Linked DNA regions of Homo sapiens: region 2 is linked to region 1. Evidence: fine-mapped expression QTL. A gene starts in region 1. The other region holds a variant in brackets. All regions are shown on one strand. Distances are between the middles of the regions.

Region 1 (8,252 bases):
GACTCATTGACAAAATGTTTTTGAAAATGTCTCTTTTCTCACAAAATAGCCCAAAATCAAGAGACTGAATTTTAGCAAACATATTTAATAGGAGAAAAGCAGCATTGCCTCTATTTCCCTTTTATTTTTAATAAAGTTTACAATTAATTTTTAATCTCTAACACATTTATACGCCTCAAATATAAAAAGAAAAAGAGATACACTAAGAGGCTTTATTCCCACTGCTACCCAAATCTAACCTGTTCCTATTACCTCCTACAAATGACTTTTTTTTTTTTTTGAGACGGAGTCTCCCCGTCACCCAGGCTGGAGTGCAATGGCACGATCTCAGCTCACTGCAGCCTCTGCCTCCTGGGTTCAAGTGATTCTCCTGCCTCAGCCTCCCAAGTAACTGGGAATACAGGTGCACACCACCATACCCAGCTAATTTTTTGTATCTTCAGTAGACATGGGGTTTCACCATATTGCTCGGTCTGGTCTCAAACCCCTGACCTCGTGATCCGCCCTCTTAGGCCTCCCACAAATGACTATTCATTGTTTCTCTTTATACTGTTTGTTTTGCAAATACAGGCAAATGCATATATAAATTTTTATATCCTCCTCCTCTTGTAAAAGGAAGTATAATATATATTGTTCTGCACCTTATAAACCAGTATCCCATTAATATGCTTCAAACTTAATTTCAATACATATTTTTTTGGAGCCTAGGTATAACAGTAAAGAAACTTCGACTGAGTTATTCTTGCTACATCCTCCAACGACTCATAATTATGCCCCACAACTCTCTATGGTTCACCTCCTTAGCGGTTCAAAGGAAACACAGTGGTTAAAAAAAAAAAAAAAAACTCTCTAAGGCTGAAAAAAACAGAAGTTACTAGTATTCCTTCCAGTTCAGAAACATTATTGACAAGCAAAAGGGGGGAAAAAAAGGAAGGAAAAAAACGTTAAAAAAAATCAGCAAATAGTTGGGAAAAAACATGGAAGAGATTATAGCTATAGTAAGTGTTTCTAATAACTGTACAAGCAACTAACTGAATCACTTACTTGGCTAACACTTTGGTGTGAGTATTGATGACATTCAAAGCTTCCTTGAAACTTCCATTCTGGATAAGGCATACCACTTTACAATGCAGGGCAGTTACGTCATCTTTGTTGATCTGTAGTACTAGAGAACAATTTTAGGAAAAGTCATTTTTAAATCCATTTCCTTTTCACATTTTTACTAAATTTTCCCACCCTGTCTCTCCGAAAGCTAAATTTCTACTTTTATTGCAACAGAAATAATTGGTCAGAACAACTGGAAGAAACAGCAACAAAACAAAACAAACCCAGAAAACAACTAATCTTTGCTTTTAACTTAAGAAGTGACAATAAGGAGAGTTATAGATTAAATTTTCAATGAGATAAAGATTCCCAATATACATGTACCAAAAAAGTGCAGTGAAATAAAGAAGAAAGAAGCAATTTCTCCAGATATTTCATCTTGAAATGCATGCTACATTCTACATAGTTCATTACTTCACAGGGAAAAAGTTCAGGTAGAATTTGGAAGCAAATGACCTAGGTTTGGTGCAAGCTTGCCACTAAATGCTTTGAGGTATTGGGCATATCACTTAACAGCCAAATCTCAGTTTTCTTAGCTACAAAATGATTAGAAAAGCATTACCTATTTAATAAGGTTACTGACAATATGAAATGAATATTTTGGAAAAATCTTATAAAGTATAATACAAAGGCAATTTATCTTGCTGGCAACGTTTCCAAAAATCATTAAAATTTCCCCTTTTCAACTAAGATGACCAAAGTATAAGGAAGAACTCAGGTGGCAAGTTTCAACGCTAACAACTGTTCGGTGTTAAAATGACCAGGATCATAGTTACTCTTGCTCCTGTGCAACTACAGAAGTCCAATTCTCAAAGAATCACAAGAATTTCTACCAATTAAGAAAACATACTGGTAAACAAGTTGACAATCTTTGCTGATTAAAGAATTCCTGCAAAATACTATACTAAGTATACAGTACTGGTTGGAAGGCTAGAGTTAATTCAAACAAATTTAGGGATCAAATAATTCTAATTCGTAGCTATTTTCCTCAATGTCTGAAATCACCAAAAGTGCACTGTGGGCACAATCACTACTTTTCACGTTAACCCAGTACTAGAGTGTTGAAAATTACTTAGATAGCTTTGCATGTTACTGACACACCTTTTAGGTTACTGCTACTCTGAACAGCTAAGCCCTGCCTTGGTAATTACATTTCCAAATCTAACATGCACAGGCTGTATCTTCAGTAGAGAAGAACTGCGCACCACCGAGAACATTAAGCAGCATGGCCATATTCCAGGTATGTAGTAAGGAACAAAAGAATATGATGAATTAAACCTCACACCAAAGGCGGTAAAAACCGAAATCATCCCTTACAGGGCAAAAAAACAGGCCAAACTTTTCTTCCGACATTATTTCAAGTGTTGGTGCTTCCACACACATATTTCCTAACTTAATAACACTGAAGAGATCTCATCTATGGGAATGACAGGCCTGACATCCAGATCCAGCCCTTTCCTCTCGCCCCGTAGAACCCGTACAGCTTCCACCTGGTTAGCACCAGCCTCTAAACTACGTGTCCCAAGCAGGTTCCTCCCCCTTTAGCGGCCAAAGAGAACAAGCTCCCTCAGCAATAGAGTCCTGATCACTGCGCTCAAGACGAAGAAGAAAAGGAGGCACTTTGGAATATTTGTGAAATAAAGCAGCAAAGGAGTCAAATAAGAAAACAGTTTGAAATGGACTCCGGGAGCTGCGGTCTCTTTAAAACCTTCCCTCGCTTCCCGCGGAGGGTAAAAAGAGAAGTACACGTGGCTGTAAGCAACCAGGGACCCCAGGCTGGCCTGGTGAAGCCGAGGAGTGAGACCTGCGTCTTCCGGGCGCTAGGGCCCGAGCCGGGCGGACAATAGACGGGGGGGTTTCGGGGGTCTCCCCTTCCCGTGCCTCCCGCGCGAGGTGGTCTCGCGCGCCGGAAACAGGCCGCATCCTCCAGCCGGCCTGGGCCCGCCCCAGTGCCCACCCCGACACTTACTCTTATTGACGGTCTTGAGAGCGCGCGTGAAGTCGCCGTTCTGGCCATACCGGTTCACTTCACTCCACAGCGCAGGTACTGACACCCCCCCGCTGCCGCCGCTCGCCATCTTGGAGGAGACGAGGGGCGGGGCGGGGAGACCTCTGCCCCGGAACAGGATCTCCGAGGCAGCCAAGAGGAGGAGGAAGTCGATGATTGCTAAGCGTCGCCGAGTTGGGAGTGTCTTCAGCCCTAAGGCAGCATCAGAGATCATAATCTTCTGCTCTCGTGGCAAGAAATTTGTGCGGATAGAGTTGATACACCTCACTTGAAGTTGGCCTGGAGAAAAGAGGCGTCGGACTCCTGGACGGGGTTGGGAAACGGTCACCAGTTTCGGCTCAAAGCAGCCTGTTTCCAGGAGACCGCCATGGTCGAGGCAGCGTCCTGGTCCCACGGTGCGGGGCCGGACGATCATTTATGGGATATAAATAAAAGGACTATGAGGTGGTAAATAAAAGACTACCAACTAGAAGCCATAGGGAGTCATTTGAAGGAGAAATAGGCACGGCTCATCTGTGGTTGAGGGAAAGGGATCTTGAAAGATGATTAGGAGAACTTGGGTTCTGGGGAAAGTGCGGGAAGACATTCTGGCAGAGAAGCAAACGTGAGGAAAGGTAAGAAGGCAAGAATCTCCCATTACAAAGGGTTTGGTGAAACCCTTTGCCTGTCCTTTTCGCTCCCTTCGGGAGCAGTCGGCAATAAGCTGGAAGGGTAATGGGGTGAAAATGCCCGTGGTCAGTTCCCTGGCTCTGCGACTCACTAGATGTCTGACAATAAACAAGTTACTTAGCTTCTGGGAGTCTGTTTTCCCGATTGTGAAATGGGGATACTATATTTGTTCTAGAGATATAAAATATTAGGGTTTGCTTGCGACCGTTAATATCAAGATGTGTTCAGATGTACGAAGGGAATGGATATCTGTTGGGTACACTTGATGTGAGTGATTTTTTTTTTTTTTTGAGACGGGGATCTTGCCGTGTTGCCCAAGCTGGTCTGGAACTCCTGGGCTCAAGCAATCCTCCCACCACAGCCTCCCCAAGTGCTGGGATTACAGGCATGAGCCACCACACCAAGACGATGTGAGTGATTCACTTGATGTGAATGTTGTATTTCATTGAATGGCCTGCTCTTCAGACTCATATCTCGTCATGACCTTTACAACTTCTACTACTTCCTGTGTCCCTCAGGAACCTAGCTTTTTTTTTTTTTTTTTTTTTTTTTTTTTGAGACGTAGTCTAGCTCTGTGACCCAGGATGAACCTCACTGCAATCTCCACCTCCTGGGTTAAAGCGATTCTTTTGCCTCAGCCTCCCAAGTAGCATGAGCCACCACGCCCGGTTAATTTTTGAATTTTTAGTAGAGATGGGGTTTCACTGTGTTGGCCAAGCTGGTCTCAAACTCCTGACCTCAAGTGATCCGCCCTCTCTCAGCCTCCCAAAGTACAGGGATTACAGGCGTAAGCCACCGTGCCCGGCCTTGCTAACTACTTTTTGTCTTTCAGTCTTTCTGGTTATACGTTGAAAGTTACTTTGAGGAAACATTTGATCTTGCAGACTGGGCAGCCTTCTGGTTGCATCCTCTTAGAACAGGGGTCCCCAACCCTTGTACTGGTCTGCAGCCTGTTAGGAACCGGGCGGCACAGCAGTAGGTGATCGGTGGGCCAGTGAGCAGTACCGCCTGAGCTCCTGTCAGATCAGCTGTGATATTAGCTTCTCACAGCTCAAACCCTATTGTGAACTGGGAATGTGAAGGATCTAGGTTGCTCACTCCTTAAGAGAATCTAATGGGAAATGTAATGAGCTTGAATCATACTGAAACCAGCTGTCCAACTCCTGTGGAAAGATTGTCTTCCCTGAAACCGGTCCCTGGTGCCAAAAAGGTTGGGAGACTCCCTATAGGACTCCACTTCTGAGCACTGATAATTAAGGGTTATCTCACTCTGTATGGACTATAGTTCTGAGGCCAAGGAACCATATTTACCTTGCTCACTGCAGTATCCCTAGGATCTAGCATACTGCCTGGCACATAGTTGGCATTTTTTGTTTCACATTCCTTGCCTAATCTTGAGTTCCTTGAGGGCAGAAACTGCCCAGCTCCTGATATGGCATATGGTGCCCTGCCATATTTTTGTCTGGTCCTTCCAGTATATACAATGCAAAGAGCATGAAAGGTGGCTTGAACTCTAGGTGCTGGAGGGTGTAATTCTTGTGAATTAGTAAAAATCATGAGAAGAGCTTTAGACTTTTACTGACTAGAATTGTCACAGGTTTCAAGCCAGTTATGTTTAGATTTCAGGGGGTGGGGGCTCCAGATGACATGGTATACCCAAAATGTTGTGTGAGAAAATTGGGTATACCCAAAATTTTGTTGTATTTTGTTATTCTGAGAAAATGTAGATTCCACTGTATTCTCCAAAGGTGTTTATATCCACCATCCCCTCCCAAAAGTTAAGAGCCACTGTCCTAGTAGTACTTTTTAGAACATTGACTTTATATAAGAATTGGCAATTTTCGTTTCTATATCATTCTAATCCTATATACTTTGTAGCTTTTAGAAATGCTCAGAATTCTGCTGCTGTGGACTTGTTTCTATTTCTTATGTCATTTTAATGGAGTTTTGTGGCAAACAGCCTATAAATATGGGGCTTAACCTGCCATTTTTGAAACAGGAATCTTCCAAACCATAGTGGTGTTTTGTTTTTTTTTTTTTAAATAACAAATTTACATCTCACATTGTGAAGGATGGAAAGATTGTCTGGTGAGGGGCCACTCTGATTCATAGATGGCATCTTCTGTTTTCACATGGTGGGAAAAAAACCAGACTGATCTCTTAAAGCATGTATCTGATGCCACTTTCCTACCCTCACGATAAAATCCGAACTCCAAAGAAGAGCAGTAAGAGCTTTTGTGATCTGGCCTCTGCTTGCCACCTCCCCAACTCACATAGGTCTCTATACTTATTTCCTAGCCCCCTTGCATGCTATTCACCTCTAACTTCCATGTAGTTATGTGTCCCCCTACCTCCTGGAATTTGCATTTTTATTCATCTGACAAGTGTTTGTCTTGTATATGCCAGTGCCGTGTATTACACCAGTTGCTGTGATACAGCTGACAACAAAGAAGACAGCCCAGTGTAATACATTTATTTTCTAGTTGGGAGAGATGGGTAATAAATAAACATGTACTATGTTTGGTGGTAATAAGTTTGCTGAAGAAAATTATGGAAAGGTAAGAGAGATTGAGTATAGACTGTGGAGAATTAGTCTTTTTCATTCACAGTATACAATTGTTTTCTAGAGATCAGAGTCCTTCCTACTTTTGTGTATTCACAATACCCTATTGTTAATTCCATATTAAGACTATATACGGTGTTTTGAAATTGTCTGCCTCTGGAGACTTCCAAGATTCATTGAGAGCAGAAGGTTAATTTTGTTCATCTTTGCATTCCCAGGGTCTTATATATACATAATAGGCTGTATTTGTTCTCTAAAAAATACAGAACCAATAGGATATGTACAGATTATGAGAAATTGGCTCTGCAAAATGGAGGTGAAGTCCCACAGTCTGCCTTCTGCAGGCTGAAGGCCCAGGAAAGCCAGTGTAGTTCCAAACCCGAGGGCTTGAGAATCAGGGGAGGCAATAACGTTAAGTCCTAGTCTGAAGGCCTGAGGACCAGGAGCACCAACATCTGGGGGCACGAAATGGATGTCCCAGCAGTTCACCCTTCTTCCCCTTTTTTGTTCTATTCAGGCCCTCAATGGATTAGATGACGCTCACCCACATGGGTGAAGGCAGTCTTCTTTACTCAAGTCTACTGATTCAAGTGCTAGTCTCTTCCAGAAACACCATCACAGATGTACCTAGAAATGTTGTTTGACCAGCTATCAAGGCATCCCGTAGCCTAGTCAAGTTGACAGAATTAGCCATCTCATCAGTATCCACAATGTATTTTTATATTAATGGATTTAGCCTGAGAAGCTTCCATGTACAGTATCTTTTTTTTTTTTTTTTTGGCGACAGATTTTCGCTCTTGTTGCCCAGGCTGGAGTGCAATGGTTCGATCTCAGCTCACCACAACCTCTGCCTTCCAGGTTCAAGCGATTCTCCTGCCTCAGCCTCCCGAGTAGTTGGAATTATAGGCATGCACCACCATGCCTGGCTAATTTTGTATTTTTAGTAAAGAGGGGGTTTCTCCATGTCAGTCAGGCTGGTCTTGAACTCCCGACCTCAGGTGATCTGCCCACCTCACCCTCCCAAAGTGCTGGGATTACAGGCGTGAGCCACTGCACCCAGCCTCATGTACAGTATCTTATGGTATCTTGTCAACTCAGAGGCAAGCAGAAGAAATAAGACGTGAGCCACCGCGCCCAGCCTCATGTACAGTATCTTATGGTATCTTATCAACTCAGAGGCAAGCAGAAGAAATATTTAGCTCCATTTTATAACTTGATTTCCATTCCACTATTTTCATTGTACTGCAATGTGAGATTAACAATTCCACCCCAAGTATTTGAGGTGTGGGAAGCTGGATGTAAAAACACCATTAAAAACAACTCTTTTCAATGGCTTTCTAAGGTTGGCTGGGCTGAAATGGCAGGTTGTGGATGCTCCGTGGCACATCACACTGCCCCTTTCTTCATATTAGAAATTAAATCAGCCGATGGCAATATTGAATTCCAGGTAATTTTCTTTCTTTCTTTTTTTTTGAAACAGAGTTTTGCTCTTGTTGCCCAGGCTGGAGTACAATGGCGCAACCTCGGCTCACCACAACCTCCGCTTCCCAGGTTCAAGCGATTCTCCTGCCTCAGCCTCCTGAGTCGCTGGGATTACAGGAATGTGCCACCATGCCCGGCTAGTTTTGTATTTTTATTAGAGACTGGGTTTCTCCATGTTGGTCAGGCTGGTCTCGAACTCCTGATCTCAGGTGATCCACCTGCCTCGGCCACCCAAAGTGCTGGGATTACAGGCATGAGCTACCATGCCCAGAGAATTCCAGGTAATTCTCATGGTGAATGAATTCCATTCATACTGTTGTTCTTCAGTCTGCCAAATGGATATTACATAACACATTTGTGTGCCATGATGGGCCTTACATATATTGACTCATGTAATTCTCACAACTTTATGAGGTGGTATTAGTC
Region 2 (16,312 bases), 130 kb after region 1:
CTTCTGACTCAGTTTCACAGACCAACATTCAAAATTTGAAAGGCTTAAATTCTCCAGTTCTTATTGGGAAGTCAAAAGATCCATCCTGTGTTGCAAAAGTTTCTGAAGAGGGGAAACCTGCGATAGGGACTCAGAAAATGGAGTTACATGTGAGGTGGAGGTCAGACACAGGCAAATGTGTAGATGCTTCACCGCTGGTTGTAATACCCACTTTTGATAAGTCATCTACAACTGTGTACATTGGTTCCCATTCTCATAGAATGAAGGCAGTTGACTTTTACTCTGGGAAGGTAAAATGGGAACAGATTTTGGGAGATCGAATTGAATCCTCAGCATGTGTATCTAAGTGTGGAAACTTTATTGTGGTGGGTAAGTTTTTGAATTTGAGGTTTGTGGAGTTAAATTGAATTACCATACAATAATCTTCATAGGCCCAAGTTAAATTTTTTAAAAATCTAAATATGATGGGTTTGGTTGCTGTCCAAAAATTATAGTTAACCCTGTGCTGATTAATATTGTGGGCCTTGGGGTCAAGAGTCCCTGGATTTGAACCTACCTGTATAGCTATTATGAACTCTGTGACCTTTGGCAAGTTACTGAACCTCTTAGAATTTCACTTTCCTTGTGGGTAAAATGGGAATAATAATAAAATGTGTTGCTGTATCACAAATACCCCAAAACTCAACAACCTAGAACAACACAAATTTATTGTCTCATAGTTTCTATGGGTCAGCAATTCAGGAGCAGCTTAGCTGGCAGTTCTGGCTCAGGGCTTTCACGTGGCTATAGCCATCTGAAAGCTTGACTTGGGTTGGAAAATCTGCCAAGGTAGCTCATTTACATCACTATTAGCAGAAAGCCTCAGTTCTTTGCTGATTCTGGCAGGAAGCTTCAATTCTTGCCACATACGCCTCTCTCTAGGCTGCTTGACTGCCCTTACAACATGGCAGCTAACATTCCTCAGAGTGATCCAGGAGACAGCAAGTAAAGAGGAACAGAGTACCTTTTATGACCTAGCGTTCCAAGTTCCATACCATCATTTTTTGTTTTCTTCTGTTAATTAGAAGGGCATAACTCAGCCAGGCGCGGTGGCTCACAGCTGTAATATCAGCACTTTGAGAGGCCAAGGTGGACAGATCGCTTGTGCCCAGGAGTTCGAGACCAGCCTGGGTAACATGCAGAAACTCTGTCACTACAAAAAATACAAACATTAGCTAGGCATGGTAGTACATGCCTGTAGTCCCAGCTACTTGGATGGCTGAGATGGGAGGATCACTAGAGCCCAGTAGGTTGAGGCTGCTGTGAGTGGTGATTGTGCCACTGTACTCTGGTCTGAGCAAGCAGAGCAGGACTCTGTCTCAAAAAAAAAAAAAGTGCATAACTCAGTTCAGGCCACATTCAAGGGGAAGAGAATTAGGCTCCACCTCTTGAAAGGAAGTACATCAAAGAATTCATGTACTTTTTTTTTTTTTCTTTTTTTTGAGATGGAGTCTGGCTCTGTTTCCCAGGCTGGAGTGCAGTGGCGCGATCTTGGTTCACTACAACCTCCACCTCCCGGGTTCAAGTGATTCTCCTGCCTCAGCCCCCTGAGTAGCTGGTATTACAGGCACATACCACCACACCCAGCTAATTTTTGTATTTTTTGTAGAGATGGGGTTTCACCATGTTGGTCAGGCTGGTATTGAACTCCTGACCTTGTGATCCACCTGCCTCGGTGTCCCAAAGTGCTGGGATTACAGGTGTGAGCCACTGCACCCGGCCTCCTGGACATATTTTAAAACACTAGAATCTTTTATCAAGCTTTTGGGAGGATTAAATGAGATAACTGTTTATGAATCAATTGGTGCATTGCTAGGGACGTGCCACCACACCTGGCTAATGTTTGTAATTTTTGTAGAGACAGAGCTTCTGCGTGTTGTCCAGGCTGGTCTCAAACTCCCGGGCTCAAGCGATCTGCCCACCTCAGCCTCCCAAAGTGCTGAGATTACAGGCGTGAGCCACCATGTCTGGCCTGGTGAGCATTTTTTCATAAGTGCTCATTAAGGGTTAGCTACTAACTGCTGCTTAGTTTCATTAAGGTATAGGTGACTTTTACTCTATTAGGAATATGGGGGTCCTGGGTATAATATCTCCCCCTGACTACAACTCTCTTTTTACTCTCCCAAGTATGTTAGGTTTCATTTTATACGCTCATGGAATCTTCATCAAAGCTTTTCAAACTAAAGGCTTAGGAATAGCTTTCCCTACTTGTGCTATCCTAGCAGCAATCTACTTGAATCTGAATGTGATTCTTCCCTTCTTCCCCTTTAAACAACGGCATTTTGAAAATTATACTACAGAACACTTTCAGTAATACACCTGAATGATAAGAAACTGCTGAATTGTTTCCCAAAGTGATAAAGTGTTTTGCATTTCCACCATCAATGTGTGAAAAGTCCAGTTGCACCACATTTTTGCTAGTACTTGGTATTGTCAGCTTTAACTTTTTTTTTGTTATAGCCGTTGAAATAATCATGAGTGGAATTTTATTGTGGTTTTAATTTGCCTTTCCCTAGTGACCAGTGATGTTGAGCATCTTTTTTTTTTTTTTTAAGACAGCGTCTTGCTCTGTCACCCAGGCTGGAGTGCAGTGGCGTCATCATGGCTTACTACACCCTCGAACTCCTGGGCTCAGGTGATGCTCCCACCTCAGCTTCTGGAGTAGCTGGGACTACAGATACACCACCACACCTGGCTAATGTTTGTAATTTTTGTAGAGACAGAGCTTCTGTGTGTTGTCCACGCTGGTCTCAAACTCCTGGGCTCAAGCGATCTGCCCACCTCAGCCTCCCAAAGTGCTGGGATTACAGACGTGAGCCACCATGTCTGACGAGCACCTTTTCAAAACCTCATTTGCTCTCTGTGTATCTTTTGTGAAGTGTCTATTGAAATCTTTTTCCCATTTTTAAGTTTTTTAAATTGAGTTTTAAGAATTGTTTTATGTATTCTGAATATAAATCATTTATCAGATATATGTTTTGCATGTTTTCTCTCAGTCTGGGGCTTGTGTTTTATTCTTTTAGCGTAGTGACATAGTGTCTTTTGAAGAGGAGTCCTTTATTTTGATGAAGTCCAATTTAATTTTTTTAATGGGTCATGCTTTTGGTGTCATCTTAGCAATCTTTGCCTAACCCAAGGTCAAAAAGATTTTCTTTTGTATTGTCTTTTGGAATTAAACTGAATTGACAGAAATCTTTACCCAGGTGAGTTCTGGGGTGCTCTACTATGTAGGACATTTCTCTTTGTCATCTCTGAGCTGGCCACTACTCTCTTGCTACTAAATAATAACTGCCAGGGGAAAAAAAAGCATAAAAAGTACATTGGGAATTGGGCCTCAAATGAGTGGCAGCGGCCATAGGCAGAGCTGTCTAGAGAGTGGGCATCAATGAAATTGCCCTAAATAGCTGTCCCCAAATTCTACTTCTCCTGATTTTCATGATCTCCAGGGAATTTGAGTGACCTTCACTTTGTACATTTGAACCATCTCTACTTCCAGTTAGGTTATTTTGGCTACACCAAGGTCAAGGACTCCTGCCCTGTCTTCTCATCCATAGCAGCAATTTGGGAAAAGCAGTTTAGTTGTTAAGAGCATAGGCTCTGGAGATTGACTTCTTAGATTCAAATCTTGGTTTGCCACATATGAGCTGTGTAATTTTTCCCCAGTAATTTAGTCTCTCTGTGCTTCAATTTTGTTATCTATAAAATGTGGTTATAATAGTACTTACTTCACTGTGGGGATTAAATGAATTAATAGATGTAACATACTTAGAATAACGCCTGACACATAGTAAATGCTCAATGAACATTGACTATTAACGTTAGCACTTCTTAAACACCTTCTATGCACTGGGCATTTGTTCACATTATCTGAATTGTTGCAATAACCCTGGAAGTAGATGACTCCACATTCTGCAGATGAATAATTTGGGGCTTAGCAACACTGGGTGATTTAAATGCCCAGTGACAGTCGTGATGAAATCTGAATCCAGATGTGTCAAAAATCTCTCTCCACCACAGTGTACTTTATTATTTTTTCAGTAGTGAAGCGCTTCTTAAAAATAAGTATGTAAAAAAATTAGTGAAGTACTTTTAAAAGATAAGATACACCTACTAAATAGATATTTTACATAAGTGATTACTAATTCAGTTTCTGCTTTACATTGCTAAAATGTAAGCCAGATGAGCTTATCATAGAGCCTATGTATAAGAGGAGGACTGAATATAAATTGCATGCTGTAGGCTAAAGAATTATTTTCCAGTAATATATCTATATCAAATCTTTTGTGCTTTGTTTCTTGGTAGGCTGTTATAATGGATTAGTTTATGTTCTGAAAAGTAATAGTGGAGAAAAATACTGGATGTTTACTACTGAAGATGCTGTCAAAAGCTCGGCAACCATGGATCCAACCACAGGACTCATTTACATTGGATCTCATGACCAGCACGCATATGCTTTAGATATTTATGTAAGGATTGACCTCAAATTAGCTGGGCATGGTGGCGCATGCCTGTAATGGTAGTTACTCCAGAGGCTGAGGTGGGAGGATTGCGTGAACCTGGGAGGTGGAGGTTGCAGTGAGCCAAGATTGTGACAGTGTATTCCACCCTGGGTGACAGAGTGAGACTCTATCTCAAAAAAAAAAAAAAAAAAAGAAAGAAAATTCACCTCATTAGTCTAATACCATAAGCATAGAAGCATTAAATTTCAATACTTAGAAGAAGAGTGAGTAACTGTCAGGTGTAGTTGAGCCTTGGAACAGGTATTAACTATTTCCCAAGCTTGTGTGGTCTGGGAAGAATAAAGCATTAATTAAGTCTTAATATCTTAAGACCTTTTTAACTTCATTACCAAATTTACCACAAATAAGTGTGCTACTCAGAGTTTTGGAATTAAAGAATTTAGGATTATCATCTTGACAGTAGAAAAAAATGACGAAGATATCAATAAGATGTTTTAAGACCTGATTACATAAAAATTAAAATGTTATGTAAGAATTATGAAATTAAGCTGGGAAAATTTTTGAAATAAATGTAAAAAAAGTGGAAATTCATTTATATTTATAAGTATTAATGAAAATAAAGATCAAATACAAATTAATAAGACAAATGTAGAGCAGATAGAAAAATAAACAAGGGACATAAATACACAGGACCCCAAAGAAGAGACGGCTAGTAAATGTATATAAATAGTTCATGAATTTAATAATCAAAGGAATGAAAATTAAAAACTCTTGAGATAAACAAATGGTGTTAGATTAGAAGACATATTCATCATAACATTAAATGCTGATGAGAGTGGTAAGAGGTTGTAACTAGTGAGGCCTCTAATGAAAACGATTTGACCATAGGTAACAATATCATATCCTTGATCCAATAAAATTCGTTTTTTAGAAATCCTGGCAAAAATAATCAGAAACATAGTCAAATATATGCATTAAGATGCCTATTTCTAAGTTGTTTATAATACCTAGAAATTCCAAAAAACGTTCAATGATAAGGTAGAGAGAGAAATTATTTATGTTCATATGGGATATTATGGATTAAAATTATATTTAAATCATTTTACAAAATCAGTGAGCAAAATATGATACCAAGTTATATATTCAGAATGATCTCAGCTATATTAGATCGTGTGTGTGTATATACACATATTCTCAGATGTGTGCGCCCAGACACACACACCCATACCCCAAAAAGATCAAATGAGAAAATGCTAAAATGTTAACACTGGTTGTCTCTGGGTAGTGTCCTTTGTCTTTATACTAATCTGATTCTCCACAGTAGGCATGTACTTTATACTAAAGATAAAAACTTATATTAACTAAACAGACATAATATCATGAAGGGTAGGTTATATGGATTTGTTAACCATCAACAAGAACAAATTAATTTGTTTTCTTATTTGCAGAGAAAGAAGTGTGTTTGGAAGTCAAAATGTGGAGGAACTGTCTTTTCCTCTCCGTGTTTGAACCTGATTCCACATCATTTGTATTTTGCTACATTGGGAGGACTTTTACTGGCTGTAAATCCTGTAGGCATAAAATAATACATATTGATTTTATTACTTTTCTTTAAATTTGTAAAATTTTTGCTTTGAGCTTTGAAAGTTTGAGTAGTTTTCAGTTAATTGTAGTAGTCCACATACACCAAACTGGAATTCATTAAAAATGATTGACATGAGATCTAGAAAGATAAGAAAATTTAAATTCCTGTATATATATATATATGTATTTTTTTGTTTGTTTGTTTGTTTTTTGACAGAGTCTCCCTCTGTCACCCAGGCTGGAGTGCAGTGGCGCAATCTCAGCTTACTGCAACCTCTGCCTCCCAGGTTCAAATTGACAAAATTTTTTTCATCATATTAAGAACTTTATGTCCATCACAGGGATAACTCTTAGGTGCTAGTTTTTTCTTTGCTGCTTTTATTGCAAGCCTTTTTCCTAGTTCTCATAAATAGCACTGATTAATTTTATATATGTATACCAGCTTCATTTATGTCTGCATACCACTACAGCATTTTCTGCTATTTTAGTTCTAACCCTAGGAGATGTATGAGTTTGTTTTTTAAAGGGTAACTGATTAGTAGGATGACATAAAATGCTGTGAATTGCTTTTTCCTGTGACAGGCTACTGGGAACGTTATTTGGAAACATTCCTGTGGAAAACCACTCTTCTCTTCCCCACAATGTTGCTCACAGTATATTTGTATTGGCTGTGTAGATGGGAATTTACTCTGCTTTACTCACTTTGGAGAACAGGTAATAGAACTAGAAATTTTTTATATATACATTTTTATATATATATAAATGTATATATAAAAAATAGAACTAGAAATTTTATATATCTATAGTTCTATTTATATTTTTTAAATTTACTTTTCTTAAAGGCAAAGCAGATGGTGACAACTGAAGTAACATTTTAAACATCATTATTCAACTCACGGTGTTGAGAAGTAGTTCTATTTTAATTGTGAAGCCATGGATTTCTTAATTTTTTAAAGAAGACATAGTAGATTTAAAAGATTTCTACCCAAACATTGTTACACTTCTTTTGTCATCTCCCCCAATTTTTAAAATATTACCAGTTTTTAGCCTGTTTTATTATAACTTCTATTGAGATTATGAAAGTTTAAATAAAACCCCTGGATTCTTTTAATTGATACAGACATTTGTACCTATTTATGGGGTATGTATGTGATATTTTGTTACAATCATAGACTGTGTAATGATTAAGTCAGGGTGTTTGTGGTGTCCATCACCTTGAGTACTTATTATTTCTATGTGTTGGGATCATTTCATGTCTTCTCTTTTAGCTGTTCTGAAATATACAACATATTGTTGTTGGCTGTAGTCATCCTACTCTGCTACTGAACATTATAACTTATTTTTTCTTACTATATGTTTTTACCTATTAACTAACCTGTTTTTATTTTTTTATTAGCCAACCCACCCCAACTTCTTTTTTTTTTTTTTTTTTTTTTTT[G/TG]AGACAGAATCTTGCTCTGTTACCAGGCTGGAGTACATTGGTGTGATCTTGGCTCACTGCAACCTCCGCCTCACGGGTTCAAGCAATTCTCCTGCTTCAGCCTCCCGAGTAGCTGGGACTACAGGCGCATGCTGCCATGCCTGGCTAATTTTTGTATTTTTAGTAGAGACGGGGTTTCACCATGTTGCCCAGGCTAGTCTCGAACTCCTGACCTCAAGTGATCCACCTGCCTCAGCCTCCCAAAGTATTGAGATTACAGGCATGAGCCACCACGCCCGGCCCCCAACTTCTAATATTCCATTTTCTTCCTCCCTGAGATCAACTTTTTTAGCTCTCACATATGAGTGAGAACATGCAATATTTGTCTTTTTGGGCCTGGCTTAATTTCACTTAAGATAAAAATCTCCAATGGCTGGGCATCATGGCTCACGCCTGTAATCCCAGCACTTTGGGAGGCCGAGGTGGGAGGATCACAGAGTCAGGAGATCGAGACCATCCTGGCCAACATGGTGAAACCCCGTCTCTACTAAAATACAAAAAAAAAAAAAAAATTAGCTGGGTGTGGTGGCACATGCCTGTAGTCCCAGCTACTTGGGAGGCTGAGGCAGGGGAATCGCTGGAACCCGGGAGGTGGAGGTTGCAGTGAGCCAAGATTGTGCCACTGCACTCCAGCCTGGTGACAGAGCGAGACTCTGTCTCCAAAAAAAAAAAAAAAAAAAAAGATAAAAGTCTCCAGTTCCATCCATGTTGCTGCAAATGACATGATTTCCTTGGTTTTTATGGCCTGATAGTATTTCACTGCATCTATATATACTACATTTTCTTTATCCACTCATCCATTGGTGGACACTTAAGTGCATTCCATATCTTTGCTCTTGTGAATTGTGCTGCAGTAAACATGGGAGATGGGAGTGCAGGTTGTCTCTTTGATATACTGATTTTTTGTCTTTGGGTAAATAGTAGTAGGACTGTTGGATATGATAGTTCTCTTCTTAGTTTTTTGAGAAATCTCCATACTGTTTTCCACAATGACTACCCTAATTTACATTCCCACCAGCAGTGTAAGTTCCTTTTTCTCCACATCCTTGCCAGCATTTGTTATGTTCTTTTAGTAATAGCCATTTTAACTTGGTAAGATGATATCTCATTGTGGTTTTGATTTGCATTTCCCTGATCATTAGTGATGTTGAGTGTTTTTTTCATATACCTGTTAGCCATTTGTATGTCTTCTTTTGAGATATGTCTATTCATCTCCCTTGCCCACTTTTTAATAGGATTTGTTTACTGTTGTGTTGTTTGAGTTCCTCATATTCTATATATTAGTCCCTTGTTGGATGAATAGTTTGCAAGTATTTTCTCCCATTCAACAGGCTGTCTCTTCACTCTGTTGTTTCCTTTGCTGTGCAGAAGCTTTTTAGCTTAATATAGTCCCACTTAACTATTTTTGTTTTTGTTGCCTATACTTTTTAGGCCTTAGCTATAAAAGCTTTGCTTAGACCAGTGTCCTGAAGTGATTCCCTTATGTTTTCTTCTAGTAGTTTTAACTAGTTTTAGGTCTTAAATTTAAGTCTTTAATCCATCTCGAGTTTATTTTTATATGCAGTGAGAGAGAGGGGTCTGGTTTATTCTTCTGCATGTAGAGAGAGCTCCAATTTTCCCAGCACCATTCATTGAAGAGGGGTGTCCATTCCCCATTGTGTATTTTTGACATCTTTCTCAAAACTCCATTGGCTGTAACTACGTGGATTTATTTCTAGGTTCTCCATTCTATTACATTGATCTATTTTTATACCAATACAGTGCCATTTTGGCTAAATTAGCCTTATTTTGAAGTCAGTTACTGTGATGCCTCCAGCTTTGTTCTTTTTACCCAATATTGCTTTGGCTATTCTGGGTCTTTTTTGGTTCCATATGAATTTTATTTTCTTTAATTTTATTTTTTGAGATGGAATCTTGTTCTGTTGCCCAGGCTGGAGTGCACTGGCACAATTTTGGCTCACTGAAACCTCTGCCTCCCGGGTTCAAGCCATTCTCCTGCCTCAGCCTCCTGAATAGCTAGGATTACAGGTGTGTACCACCACACCCAGCTAATTTTTGTATTTTTAGTAGAGATGGGGTTTCACCATGTTGGCCAGGCTGGTCTCGAACTCCTGACCTCAGGTGATCCACCTGCCTTGGCCTCCCAAAGTGTTGGGATTACAGGTGTGAGCCACCATGCCTGGCCACAACTTATAACTGTTTATCATTGCCCATAAACTCTTCCTTTCAGCACAATTAACTTTTTTCCTACATTTGGAAAAGAAGATACATAGTTTGTAAGAAGATATATTGAAAACTGGTCTCAATTTTTTTTTTTTTTTTTGAAACAAGGTCTCACTATCGCCCAGGGTGGAGTGCAGTAGTGTGATCTTGGCTCACTGCAACCTCTGCCTCCCAGGTTCAAGTGGTTCTCCCACCTCAGCCTCCCCAGTAGCTGGGACTGTAGGTGTGTGCCACCACACCTGGCTAATTTTTGTATTTTTAATAGAGATGGGGTTTCACCATGTTGGCCAAGCTGGTCTTGAACTCCTGACTGCAGGTGATCTGCCTGCCTTGGCCTCCCAAAATGCTGGGATTATAGGCATGAAACACCACGCCTGGCCCAGTTTTTAATAAGATACACTGAAGGCTGGATGTGGTGGCTCACACCTGTAATCTCTGCACTTTGGGAGGCCGAGGTGGGCGGATCACGAGGTCAGGAGATCGAGACCATCCTGGCTAACATGGTGAAACCTCATCTCTACTAAAAATACAAAAAATTACCTGGGTGTGGTGGCACGCGCCTAGCTACTCGGGAGGCTGAGGCGGGAGAAGCGCTTCAACCTGGCAAGCAGAGGATGCAGTGAGCTGAGATCATGCCACTGCACTCCAGCCTGGGCGACAGAGCAAGACTCCATCTCAAAAAAAAATAATAATAATAAATAAAAATTAAAAAAAGATAATATTGAAAACTCAATGTAGTTTTACCTTTGAACTCAGTGTCTCTGAATAATACTAACTCTTGAATGGAGTTCAAAATTAATTTTACTTATTATGCACGGCAGTGAATCACATAGTAACAACACTCCAGTATATTTTGTCTTAGATTTTACATTTTACCACTGGGACAGAGGTCTAGTATGATAGTGCTACTTTTCAGAAAAAGCCATTTTGTCTGTGTATAGTTACCATTCAAATAGCCTATATCTCTTAGATTTGCATTAAGAACCTCATAGAGCTTTAAGGGAGAATTGGAGCAATTAGATGAATGAATTATATTTATTTTTATTACTTGTTATAGGTTTGGCAGTTCTCTACCAGTGGACCAATCTTTTCATCCCCGTGTACCTCACCATCAGAGCAAAAAATATTTTTTGGTTCCCATGATTGCTTTATCTACTGTTGTAACATGAAAGGTCACCTGCAGTGGAAATTTGAAACTACTTCAAGGGTCTATGCAACACCGTTTGCTTTCCATAACTACAATGGCAGCAATGAAATGTTGCTGGCAGCAGCATCTACTGATGGGAAAGTGTGGATCTTGGAATCTCAGAGTGGACAATTGCAAAGTGTTTATGAACTTCCTGGAGAAGTCTTCTCTTCTCCTGTGGTCCTGGAATCAATGCTCATTATTGGGTGTAGAGATAATTATGTTTATTGTCTGGATTTATTGGGTGGCAATCAAAAATAATCAAATACAGTCCTTATTTGTATAACAAATGTGAGATATTTGAAAATATTTTACCATTATACATCATGTGGACTTATTTTATATTAAAGAAGATTATATTTTGGCTAAGAAACGGAAACTTGTCTACACTTGATTAGAGAACAACTATATTTTACTTCCCATAGGAACGACAGAAGCTTTTACAAGGAGTTAGAGAACAAAACACATCAATATAATTAGTAGCACTTTTGTTTAATTAGGTGTGATGGTTAACTTTATTTATATGTCAGCTTGACTGGCTAAGGGATGCTCAGATGATTGATAGCTGGTAAAACATTATTTCTGGGTTTGTCTGTGAGGCTGTTTCTGGAAAAGATGATTAGCATTTGAATTTGAATCAGTAGACTGAGTAAAGAAGGTCCTCCCTCACCAGTGTGCCAATGTGGGTGGCATCGTTCAATCTGATGAGGGCCTGAATAGAATGAAAAGGTAGAGGAGGGGCAAATGCTGTCTTCTTGCTGAGATGTATCCATCTGCTCCTGCCCTTGGACATCAGGGCTCCTGGTTCTGAAGCCTTTAGACCACTCTCCTGGGTCTCCAGCGTGCAAATGGCAGATGGTGGTACTTCTCAGCCTCCATCATAATCACTTAAGCCAATTTTCATAATACATCATCTCTCCTAATCGCTAGGTTTCTATGGAGAACCCTAATACATTAGGCTAATTTTATGTTTTTTTCTTTAAAAAAGCAAGATCCCAGCTGGGGGGCCGGGGGGAGAAACAGAATATACTTACTTGGTGGGTTAAAAACAGTCTTTATTACATGAATTTGTCATTCATGGCAAAAGGTTTTCTAAGGCAGGATCTAGTTATTGAATTATGTTCCTTAGTTATTTTTAAATGAAGTACTAATGTAGAATAAAATAAACACACATATATCACACCCCCCACATAGTACAATTTCATGGTTATACATGGTGATTTCAGGCATTCATTGTTCCTAGCAATGCCCTTTCCTTAAAATTTTGATCTTTTGCGGGCAGCCAAGATGGCCGAATAGGAACAGCTCCGGTCTACAGCTCCCAGCGTGAGTGACGCAGAAGACAGGTGATTTCTGCATTTCCATCTGAGGTACCGGGTTCATCTCACTAGGGAGTGCCAGAGAGTGGGCGCAGGACAGTGGGTGCAGCACACTGCGTGAGCCGAAGAGGGTGAGGCATTGCCTCACTCGGGAAGCGCAAGGGTTCAGGGAGTTCCCTTTCCTAGTCAAAGAAAGGGGTGACAGACGGCACCTGGAAAATCGGGTCACTTCCACACTAATACTGCGCTTTTGCAACGGGCTTAAAAAAAACGGCGCACCAGGAGATTATATCCCACACCTGCCTCGGAGGGTACTACGCCCACGGAGTCTCGCTGATTGCTAGCACAGCAGTTTGAAATCAAACTGCAAGGCGGCAGTGAGGCTGGGGGAGGGGCACCTGCCATTGCCCAGGCTTGCTTAGGTAAACAAAGCAGCCGGGAAGCTTGAACTGGGTGGAGCCCACCACAGCTCAAGGAGGCCTGCCTGCCTGCCTCTGTAGGCGCCACCTCTGGGGGCAGGGCACAGACAAACAAAAAGACAGCAGTAACCTCTGCAGACTTAAATGTCCCTGACAGCTTGGAAGAGAGCAGTGGTTCTCCCAGCATGCAGCTAGAGATGATCTGAGAACAGGCAGACTGCCTCAAGTGGGTCCCTGATCCCTGACCCCCGAGCAGCCTAACTGGGAGGCACCCCCCATTAGGGGCAGACTGACACCTCACACGGCCAGGTACTCCTCTGAGACAAAACTTCCAGAGGAACGATCAGACAGCAGCATTCGTGGTTCACGAAAATCCGCTGTTCTGCAGCCACTGCTGCTGATACCCAGACAAACGGTCTGGAGTGGACCTCTAGCAAACTCCAACAGACCTGCAGCTGAGGGCCCTATCTGTTAGAAGGAAAACTAACAAACAGAAAGGACATCCACACCAAAAACTCATCTGTACATCACCATCATCAAAGACCAAAAGTAGATAAAACCACAAAGATGGGGAAAAAACAGAGCAGAAAAACTGGAAACTCTAAAAAGCAGAGCGCCTCTCCTCCTCCAAAGGAACACAGTTCCTCACCAGCAACAGAACAAAGCTGGACGGAGAATGACTTTGACGAGTTGAGAGAAGGCTTCAGACGATCAAACTACTCCGAGCTACAGGAGGAAATTCAAACCAAAGGCAAAGAAGTTAAAAACTTTGAAAAAAATTTAGACAAATGTATAACTAGAATAACCAATACAGAGAAGTGCTTAAAGGAGCTGATGGAGCTGAAAGCCAAGGCTGGAGAACTACGTGAAGAATGCAGAAGCCTCAGGAGCCGATGCAATCAAATGGAAGAAAGGGTATCAGCCATGGAAGATGAAATGAATGAAATGAAGCGAGAAGGGAAGTTTAGAGAAAACAGAATGAAATGAACAAAGCCTCCAAGAAATATGGGACTATGTGAAAAGACAAAATCTACGTCTGATTGGTGTACCTGAAAGTGACAGGGAGAATGGAACCAAGTTGGAAAACACTCTGCAGGATATTATCCAGGAGAACTTCCCCAATCTAGCAAGGTAGGCCAACATTCAGATTCAGGAAATACAGAGAACACCACAAAGATACTCCTCGAGAGGAACAACTCCAAGACACATAATTGTCAGATTCACCAAAGTTGAAATGAAGGAAAAAATGTTAAGGGCAGCCTGAGAGAATGGTCGGGTTACCCACAAAGGGAAGCCCATCAGACTAACAGCGGATCTCTCGGCAGAAACTCTACAAGCCAGGAGAGAGTGGGGGCCAATATTCAACATTCTTAAAGAAAAGAATTTTCAACCCAGAATTTCATATCCAGCCAAACTAAGCTTCATAAGTGAAGGAGAAATAAAATACTTTACAGACAAGCAAATGCTGAGAAATTCTGTCACCACCAGGTCTGCCCTAAAAGAGCTTCTGAAGGAAGCACTCAACATGGAAAGGAACAACCGGTACCAGCCACTGCAAAATCATGCCAAATTGTAAAGACCATCAAGCCTAGGAAGAAACTGCATCAACTAATGAGCAAAATAACCAGCTAACATCATAATGACAGGATCAAATTCACACATAACAATATTAACTTTAAATGTAAATGGACCAAATGCTCCAATTAAAAGACACAGACTGGCAAATTGGATAAAGAGTCAAGACCCACCAGTGTGCTATATCCAGGAAACTCATCTCACGTGCAGAGACACACATAGGCTCAAAATAAAAGGATGGAGGAAGATCTACCAAGCAAATGGAAAACAAAAAAAGGCAGGGGTTGCAATCCTAGTCTCGGATAAAACAGACTTTAATCCAACAAAGATCAAAAGAGACAAAGAAGGCCATTACATAATGGTAAAGGGATCAATTCAACAAGAAGAGCTAACTATCCTAAATATATATGCACCCAATACAGGAGCACCCAGATTCATAAAGCAAGTCCTGAGTGACCTACAAAGAGACTTAGACTCCCACACAATAATAATGGCAGACTTTAACACCCCACTGTCAACCTTAGACAGATCGAGACAGAAAGTTAACAAGGATACCCAGGAATTGAACTCAGCGCTGCACCAAGCGGACCTAATAGACATCTACAGAACTCTCCACCCCAAATCAACAGAATATACATTTTTTTCAGCACCACACCACACCTATTCCAAAATTGACCACATAGTTGGAAGTAAAGCACTCCTCAGCAAATGTAAAAGAACAGAAATTATAACAAACTGTCTCTCAGACCACAGTGCAATCAAACTAGAACTCAGGATTAAGAAACTCACTCAAAACTGCTCAACTACATGGAAACTGAACAACCTGATCCTGAATGACTACTGGGTACATAATGAAATGAAGGCAGAAATCAAGATGTTCTTTGAAACCAACGAGAACAAAGACACAACATACCAGAATCTCTGGGACACATTCAAAGCAGTGTGTAGAGGGCAATTTATAGCACTAAATGCCCACAAGAGAAAGCAGGAAAGATCCAAAATTGACACCCTAACATCACAATTAAAAGAACTAGAAAAGCAAGAGCAAACACATTCAAAAGCTAGCAGAAGGCAAGAAATAACTCAAATCAGAGCAGAACTGAAGGAAATAGAGACACAAAAAACCCTTCAAAAAATTAATGAATCCAGGAGCTGGTTTTCTGAAAGGATCAACAAAATTGATAGACCGCTAGCAAGACTAATAAAGAAGAAAAGAGAGAAGAATCAAATAGACGCAATAAAAAATGATAAAGGGGATATCACTACCGATCCCACAGAAATACAAACTACCATCAGAGAATACTACAAACACCTCTACGCAAATAAACTAGAAAATCTAGAAGAAATGGATAAATTCCTCGACACATACACCCTCCCAAGACTAAACCAGGAAGAAGTTGAATCGCTGAATAGACCAATAACAGGCTCTGAAATTGTGGCAATAATCAATAGCTTACCAACCAAAAAGAGTCCAGGACCAGATGGATTCACAGCCGAATTCTACCAGAGGTACAAGGAGGAACTGGTACCATTCCTTCTGAAACTATTCTAATCAATAGAAAAAGAGGGAATCCTCCCTAACTCATTTTATGAGGCCAGCATCATCCTGATAGCAAAGCCTGGCAGAGACACAACCAAAAAAGAGAATTTTAGACCAATATCCTTGATGAACATTGATGCAAAAATCCTCAGTAAAATACTGGCAAACTGAATCCAGCAGCACATCAACAAGCTTATCCACCATGAACAAGTGGGCTTCATCCCTGGGATGCAAGGCTGGTTCAATATACGCAAATCAATAAACATAATCCAGCATATAAACAGAACCAAAGACAAAAACCACATGATTATCTCAATAGATGCAGAAAAGGCCTTTGACAAAATTCAACAACCCTTCATGCTAAAAACTCTCAATAAATTAGGTATTGATGGGACATATCTCAAAATAATAAGAGCTATCTATGACAAACCCACAGCCAATATCATACTGAATGGACAAAAACTGGAAGCATTCCCTTTGAAAACTGGCA

The links.
Region 2: its variant is fine-mapped to the expression of SRP72 in whole blood (INTERVAL, PIP 0.94).

What each region holds. Positions count from the first base shown.
Region 1 is chr4:56,462,566-56,470,817 of GRCh38, reverse strand. SRP72 (signal recognition particle 72) reads right to left here and starts at 3,201. Exons shown (of 19, transcript NM_006947.4): 1 at 3,074-3,201; 2 at 1,045-1,165. The coding sequence starts at 3,182. It overlaps PAICS (phosphoribosylaminoimidazole carboxylase and phosphoribosylaminoimidazolesuccinocarboxamide synthase), which reads right to left. Exons shown (of 9, transcript NM_001079524.2): 9 at 6,240-8,252. LOC124900706 (a long non-coding RNA gene) reads left to right here and starts at 3,260. Exons shown (of 2, transcript XR_007058126.1): 1 at 3,260-3,726; 2 at 7,825-8,252. RefSeq lists an enhancer at 3,147-3,356.
Region 2 is chr4:56,333,320-56,349,631 of GRCh38, reverse strand. It overlaps AASDH (aminoadipate-semialdehyde dehydrogenase), which reads left to right. Exons shown (of 15, transcript NM_181806.4): 11 at 1-369; 12 at 4,342-4,505; 13 at 5,948-6,070; 14 at 6,666-6,797; 15 at 10,841-11,342. The coding sequence ends at 11,230. Among named protein-coding and RNA genes, the nearest start is that of AASDH, 46 kb to the left of the region's middle. The variant G/TG (reference allele first, on the strand shown) is at 7,522.